Homo sapiens: one gene and its partner. The protein of the gene in region 1 interacts with the protein of each later gene in a pairwise test. Each region holds a gene or a part of one and is shown in the gene's direction. Other genes may lie near its edges.

The links.
Region 2: the proteins of NELFCD (region 1) and ZNF638 interact in a two-hybrid assay, tested with the Homo sapiens proteins (one large-scale study listed by BioGRID and IntAct).

The regions. Positions count from the first base shown.
Region 1 is NC_000020.11:58,984,241-58,988,064, forward strand, and holds part of NELFCD (negative elongation factor C/D), read left to right. Parts: intron 1-1,852; coding exon 1,853-1,968; intron 1,969-2,513; coding exon 2,514-2,623; intron 2,624-3,467; coding exon 3,468-3,577; intron 3,578-3,824. UniProt on the Homo sapiens protein: Essential component of the NELF complex, a complex that negatively regulates the elongation of transcription by RNA polymerase II.
Region 2 is NC_000002.12:71,418,552-71,422,375, forward strand, and holds part of ZNF638 (zinc finger protein 638), read left to right. Parts: intron 1-50; coding exon 51-88; intron 89-3,824.

The DNA.
Region 1 (3,824 bases):
AGTGGGAAGGGCACGCTCTTGCTAGAGCTGGGGCGTTTTTTCCTGAAGGAGATGGGAATCTTTAAGCAGGAGAGAGACGTCAGTTTTGTGGCTTACAAAGATCACTGTGGCCACGGTGTGAAAGATGATTGAAAGGAAGGAATAAGACTGAGACTTCAGGGGAATGTTGCTACTGCAAGCATACAAAAAATAAGGAAGAGCAGAGGCAAATGTGGAAAGAAGGACCACCTTGGATAGACAGATGGGAGATGGAACTGATGAGTCTTTGTGACAGGATGTGGGGGTGGGGTGAGGGAGAGAAGCTGAGGATGATTTTCAGGTTTGGGGGGTAACAAGTAGATATATGAAGGATACCTTTACGGAAATATGGGTTGTAGGAAGAAGATCTGTTTCTAGGGAAGAGATGTCAGTTTTGGACCTAAAGAGTTTGGATACTTGTGAGACATCTGACTGGAAATGAGAATGGAATGTTGGATACCTGAGTCTGGAGCTTAAGAGAGGAAAGACGGAGAGAGAGATCCAGGCTAATTCTAGATTGGTGAGCAGGTAGATAGCATGACCCAAGAGGTGGTGGAAGAGGCAGGTAGGTGAGTGCCCAGGGTGGAAGCCCAAGAGAACAGACAACGTGGGAATGAAGCTCGGGGTGAAGTCCGGCCTCTGTCATGCCCTTAGGGGCTCAGCGTTCCCCATGCAAATCTGGTCTGAGAGAAGACTCCACAGCTTTTACTGGGAAGTCATCGGGTTCTGTCTGCTCCCAAAGCACTGCTTTTAGGATCTTAGTCCAGATCAGGAGTGAGCAAACTTTTCTGAAAAAGGCTAGATAGCAAATATTTTAGGTTGTGCCTGTCTCTGTCTTAACTACTTACCTCTGCCCTTACAGGGGGAAAGCAATCATAGACAGTCCTTAAAAGAATGGGTGTGCTGTGTTCCGTAAAAGTTTATTTGCAAAAATAGGAGAGGGCTGGATTCGGCTCTGGGTCATAGTTTGCTGACCCCTGGCCCAGCTCTTGCCCCATTATGTTAGAGTAGGTTGCATGGAGGTCTGTCTCTCCTATTAGTTTGTGAACTTCTTTGATGGAAAAAGCCTTGTCTTGTCTTACATTTTCTTAGGTTCCTTGGTTGATGAGCATAGTGCAGACTGAATGTTCAAAAAGCATCTGCTTGTTAGTTAGGGTGGCAGTGTTAAAGTTGGACAGGGTTTGGGATCACAGTCCATCCTCACATGGTCATTAGCAGGTGAAGAAGCCTGCTTTGCCCTTAGATGGAGTGACAGGCCTGAAGTTGCTTCCACATAGAATTGGGACTGGAGTCCAGCCAGAAGTGTGGATGCAAGGCGAGTTAGTGGTCTTTACTTTCTAATGGTAAGTGATGGCTCACGCTTTCAAGAATCAGGTTGTTACTCTTCAGTGGCATGTATGAAATAAGAATAGTGAAAACAATAATAATAATAGTTTACTATTTATTGCACTGTTACGAAATGTCAGGGATTATGCTGGGTTCTTCCAAAAATTAGCTCATGGAATCCTCACAACAGCCAAATGGGAATAGGCGTTATTATTATCTTCACTTAACAGAGGAGGAAATGGACACTCAGAGAGGTTGGGTAACTTGTGTGAGCATGGAACGCGGTTTGCCAGGGAGGAGTTGTACACACCCACTCAGTGTGATCCTGGATCCCATTTTCCTAGCCACTCACTATCTGTCCAGCCCATTTCATGAAATTGTCATGAAAGTCAAATGAAATAATGTGTGTAGAATACTTTCAAAATGGGCAGCATTATACGATTTAAGGTGAGATTAGGGTATTTGTATTAATGAAAAAAATATCCTGGCTCTTCGCATTTACCAACAGCAGGAGGATGATTCTGGAGAAGGAGAGGATGATGCGGAGGTTCAGCAAGAATGCCTGCATAAATTTTCCACCCGGGATTATATCATGGAACCCTCCATCTTCAACACTCTGAAGAGGTATGTGAGAAAGGTGTCTGTATTGGGAGGAGGCTGGGGGTAATTTAGAGAAAGTTTTGTAATACACCCAGAAGGTGCTATGTAAAGCAAGAGTAACGCGAACTGAACTAAAGGCTTCAAGGGGGGGTCCCCTCTGCCACTTTTTTTTTTTTTTTAAATTTTTTTAAGACAGAGTCTTGCTCTGTTGCAGTGGCACAATCACCGCTCACTGCAGCTTCAGCCTCCTGGAATCAAGCAGTTCTCCCACCTCAGCCTTGCAAGGTGGCCACCACAGGCGTCTGCCATCATGCCTGGCTATTTTTGTTTTTGTTTTTTGGGAGAGACAGGGCTCCTTACGTTGCCCTGGCTGCTCTTGAACTCCTAGGCTCAAGTGATTCTCCCACCTCTGCCTCCCAAAGTGCTGGGATTACAGGTGTGCACCACTGCACCCAGCCCCCTCCGCTGCTTTAAAAATTTTGAAACCTGATTCTCTTCCTCCTTCCTTACCTTCCTGTTGTCCATCATTCCATTCATTCGGGTGTAATTGCTGTTGTTACTTTCCCTAGGTATTTTCAGGCAGGAGGGTCTCCAGAGAATGTTATCCAGCTCTTATCTGAAAACTACACCGCTGTGGCCCAGACTGTGAACCTGCTGGCCGAGTGGCTCATTCAGACAGGTGCTTTGTGGGTGTCCCCTGTCCTGGCTAGTTACCCCCACTTTTTTAAAAATAGACTTTTGGGTCCTTATAACACTGATACAATGCCTTCTTTGATTTCCTGGTTTCTGAGACTTGTGTAAGAAAGAGCTGAACTTCTTACTCATTTTTATCTTTATCTTACTCATTTGTATCTGCTTGCCTCTTATCTTTGATTCAGTAATTGAGGTTTACTGGTAGCCTGCAAACGTGATTCTCATTGAGCTGTTTTCCCTACCATGTTGTAGAATTATAGGATTATACAGTGTGTGTTCAGTGTGTCATTTTCAAGACGTCTATTACAGCAAGCAGTAAATGACGGATAATTTAGGACTGGCTGTGATTATGGCTTTTAGTTAATATGATCAAAGTAGAGTCTTACTGTAAATCCACGGAGCCGGGTGCAGATGACATCACTGAAGTGCGTGCTGTCCGGAAGCTTGTGGACACACTGCTGTCCCGGTGATTAGATACAAGTGTGTCTCTTTTGGCTGCCATCTGCTCCCTCCTCACTGGGCAGGGATGTTTTTCCATCCCCCTACCTGTTGCTGGGGCCATTTGTCTTTATCCTCAGTGAGGCTCTGCAGATGGTGCTGTCCTTTCCATGAAGTTAGGGGTGGACCAGACTTGTGTGTTCTGTTCTGTGCTGCTTTTTGGTCTTATCATTGATAACTACTTTGAAGAGTTCCAAAACCTTACATGTATAAGTGGTCAGAAGCAATTCTTTGGTATTTGATTCACATAGAGACTTTTGACCATTTGCTTTCTAAAGCCACACAGTGAATGGACAGCTTGCCATTGTCTAGTTGCTTTTATTCTCTTTCAGGTGTTGAGCCAGTGCAGGTTCAGGAAACTGTGGAAAATCACTTGAAGAGTTTGCTGATCAAACATTTTGACCCCCGCAAAGCAGATTCTATTTTTACTGAAGAAGGAGAGGTGAGAAATTATTTTTCTTTGCCTAGTACCAGGCCCTAGGGTCTTTTGCAAATTCCCTGTGTACAGTGGAGCGTGGCATATCATGTAAGTAATGGCAGAGTTGAGGACTAAAATCAGAGTGTGAGACAGAAGTTGCATCTAGTCAGAATTGCCCTTTAAACTCTGTACCCAGGGTCGTGACATGCTTGCACGCAAGAGGCACACAGGTGCTGAGATCAAGAGAATGAACAGCAAGTTCCCACCATTT
Region 2 (3,824 bases), on another chromosome or scaffold:
ATTTCAAATCCAGTGGAATAGCCTCTAATAAAATGCTGATTATATTACAGGTGCAAATTGAGCATGACCCAGAATTAGAAAAAGAAAGGTATGTTGCTTTATGTTTACTAACACTTTTGTATAGTATTTAGTTTCTGAATTTTATTGCTGTATTTTATAGTAATGGCTCACATGTAGTGAAAAGTTCTTTTCTGCATATTTATTTTGTGTACATATGGGCTTGTTACAGTTTTCTTTTTGGACTCAGCCTGACCTAGGAGTTTCGTTTGTTGCTTTTTATTTACTCTCATTTAAGTATTTACTGAATATTTAGAGTAACTGCGTATATAAACAGTTTGAATTAAATAAACCACTTTATAAAATGTTTTAAGACTCTCGAATAACTCAACATCACGAACAGTAATTACATTGTTTTTGTTAGATTTTCCTATTCCAAAATAAACACGGTAGTAAAATTTTAACCTTTTAACGTTACTTAATTTCATTGTGTGTTTTGATACTTTTTAAAAACAACTGGGTTGGGGCGAGTAAGTATTTGTCCAAAAAAATTATGTATATAGTTTTGCATTATCAGAGGAATGAAAGCTTGTTTTTCAAAGTCTCCACAAACTGGTGACTTACAGCCTTGTTTTGACCACGTAAAGTACACCCTCTCCTTAATAACTTTCTCATTCTGATGGATATCCTCCTTATCACCACCCTTGTTCCACCAGTTGATGACTTGCCTTTCACTGCTCTTCATTGTAAATCACTGATTTAGAATATTTCTTTTTCCTCCTGTATACTGAGTCATCAATATTTATTAGTCCTTGTTGTAAGAGCGTATATTTGTTTGAAACAGCAGTTTGAAAGTGTTTAAATATGTAAAGTGTTTATTTTATCTGATGCACTGATGTTAAGATCCCTGAAAAACAGAACGTCTTAGCGGATTTTTCTTCTCAGTAATTTTTATAAAATCAGATTATTTTAGTTGACAAAGATGATGAGTACATTAAAATATACCAGTAACATTAAGCAATAGGTTTGCTCTGTGTGTCAGCACAGGGTTATTTAAGTTGTATGTCATACCAGGTGCATTCACATACCTAAGAAATAGTACCACCAGCAGTGTGTGATGTGAAAGCTCACAAAGGGCTTAATAAATAACAGTGCCTATGTAGTACTATATATATAGACCTAAAGATTGGCCACGTTAACTCTGTGGCAAAACCCATTTTATTTCATTTTACAAAGATTTTTTGAGGTCTGCATGAAAAGTTGTTCTCCATAGCAATAGCAGTTGGTCATTGTTCTCCTCTCATTGTTTAGACATAGCTTTTAAAATTGAATATATTTCTTAAATAATTTATAGATGTATTCAACCTCATAAAACTAATTTTTAAAATTAGCACCAAAAACTTCTTAATTCCCACCCCCCCCCGCCTTTTTTTTTTTTTTTTTTTTTTTTTTTTTAACATTAGAGAAAAAGATGTGGGATATGTCCAGAATACTAAACATTTGTTTTGGAGTGAACTGATGCTGAGAAAATACTATTTGTTGTTTTTGTTGTGTTTTTTTTTAGAGACAGGGTCTTGCTATGTTGCTCAGGCTGGCCTTGAACTCCTGGGCACAAGCTGTTTTCCCACCTCAGCTTCCTGTGTAGCTGGTACTACATGCACTTGTTTTGTTTTGTTTTAAAGCACTTGTGGTTGCCAATTCATTATGAATATGATACTTTTGTTTATAACTAAACTATTTAAATACTGTTTAGAGGAAACTCGTGGATACATTCATAATTTAATAATTCACACTGTACTCATTCTGTTGATATGTAAACAGATTTTATTTATCATCTGATTAAAGCCACAAATAAGAATGCTAAGTGAAATTTTTCTAATTCATTAACATTAGGAAGTAAACAGTTGGCCTCTGAAATAAACACTAATCTTTAGTATTGTGAAGTCCCAGTTTAAGGTTTCTCAGAATGTTTGTCTTTCAGTGTTAACGTTTGTTCTAATGCCCAGCTTTTATTGTATGCTTTTTCTGAAGGCTGTGAAATTCTGGTATTACTGGGATATTGGGGCTGGAGGGAGGAGTGGCAAATGAGATATCTGTATCTCAAATGCCTTTCTGGAATCCTTTTCTGTTCCATTTCCCAGAATGTGGCTGTTTTCATTTGATCGTTACAAAGAGTGGTTGTTTAACTTTGGTGTTAATGTCATTTATTTGACATTTCAAACTGTCTTTTCAAACTAACTTGATCAATATTGAGGCTTTTTTCCCATATTAGCCAGAAAGCAGATACTAGTTTTGGTAAATGACTTCTCTAAAGAAAACACTATGATTTGAAAAGACTAGCACACAAGGACAAATATGGAATTAAATAATTCTTCTGAGTAGACCTGTGTTCTCTGTTTCAAGTATGGAACTGCATAATGGTTCAGTTTGTATATAAGATAATAACTTTTTTATTGAAAAACTTGTGAAGGGGAAAGTCTTGCTATATCCTTGAGCCAGGAATCAAGGTCTCCATTGTTATCCTAGCCCCATAGATGTTTTTACTTAGCCCTAAGTTTCTAAAGTTTTATGTAGGGTTAATATGCAGTACAGTAATGAGGCAGGAATTTGAATATTTTCTTCATTATTGGAAATGAGTCTTGTAATTTAAAGACAAAAGCTTGTTTTGAGAAGTAATATTCATATACCTGCTGTAACTGTGAATGTCACTGCTCTTTTCTGGTTGTGCTTTGCCACAAATTTTATTGTGAATTGTAAAGATTTGAAACTCTTAAAATTAGCCATTTATATTTTGAAAAAAAGGGGTGTGATTATTTTAAAAAAAAAACATTTTAGCATGCAAAGAATAACTTGCACAATGGATAGAATATATATTGATTAAGGTTTAGGGTCAAGAGGTATTTCTCTAATCTGGTAGAAAAGTTTTCTCCTCAGGATGTAATCTTTGGGGCATGAGGGAAGACCAGTTTGGTTCAAATGATTTAAGACCCTGATGTGGTAGCACAACTTTCTTAAATATGGTTAACATCTCAGCACACAGATATACACCATCTTGTGTTGTTAACTGAAGGGTACATGGCCACCCTCTAAGAAGCAGGTCAAAAGGGATGGCTCATCCTCTCCTTCCTTAAAAAATAGGAGAAGAAAGTCAGTACTTTTTAATAATCAGGTATTGATATGATAGGATCACTCTCTGGTGTCTTTCTCCAATCTGCTGCTTCTCATTATATGAATATATTTGGTAAATTTTAATTTGCATTGATAGCATGTTGGGCATTGTTTTTGGAAGCTAAGGTTTTCCTTGTTCTTCAAGAAAACCTCTGATTTGTGGAATATTGATATAAAAATAACTTATTCTGTGTCTACCTCGGTGAAAGTACTGGAATTATAGGACTACTCACTTTTCATATACTTTAGATTTGGGAAGACCATGATGAAATAAGATGAATTACATATACTTAGCCATGTATTTCCTCCATTTCTTCTGAATATTACTTACACATTTAAGTTAAATATTAGAATTATACATTATTCTCTTGAATTGGGAAGGTTTATTTTTTAATGCATTTCTTCTTATAGCCAAAGGCAAATATTTATAAGACTGTATGTTCACATAAGGTGATTATATCAGGTTTTGTCACTAGCTTTAAATCCTCAATAGAGTATATAAAGAATACTTTCCAAATAATGTTCTAAGTATTATCATTAATAAATATGGTTCTTGGGTAATTAAAAAAATATTTTACATCCAAAAAAAAAATAAAAAGGTGATATGATTTAGAGTATGGTCTTTTCCCCCCACCAGTTTCTGTTTATGTTCTTTTTAG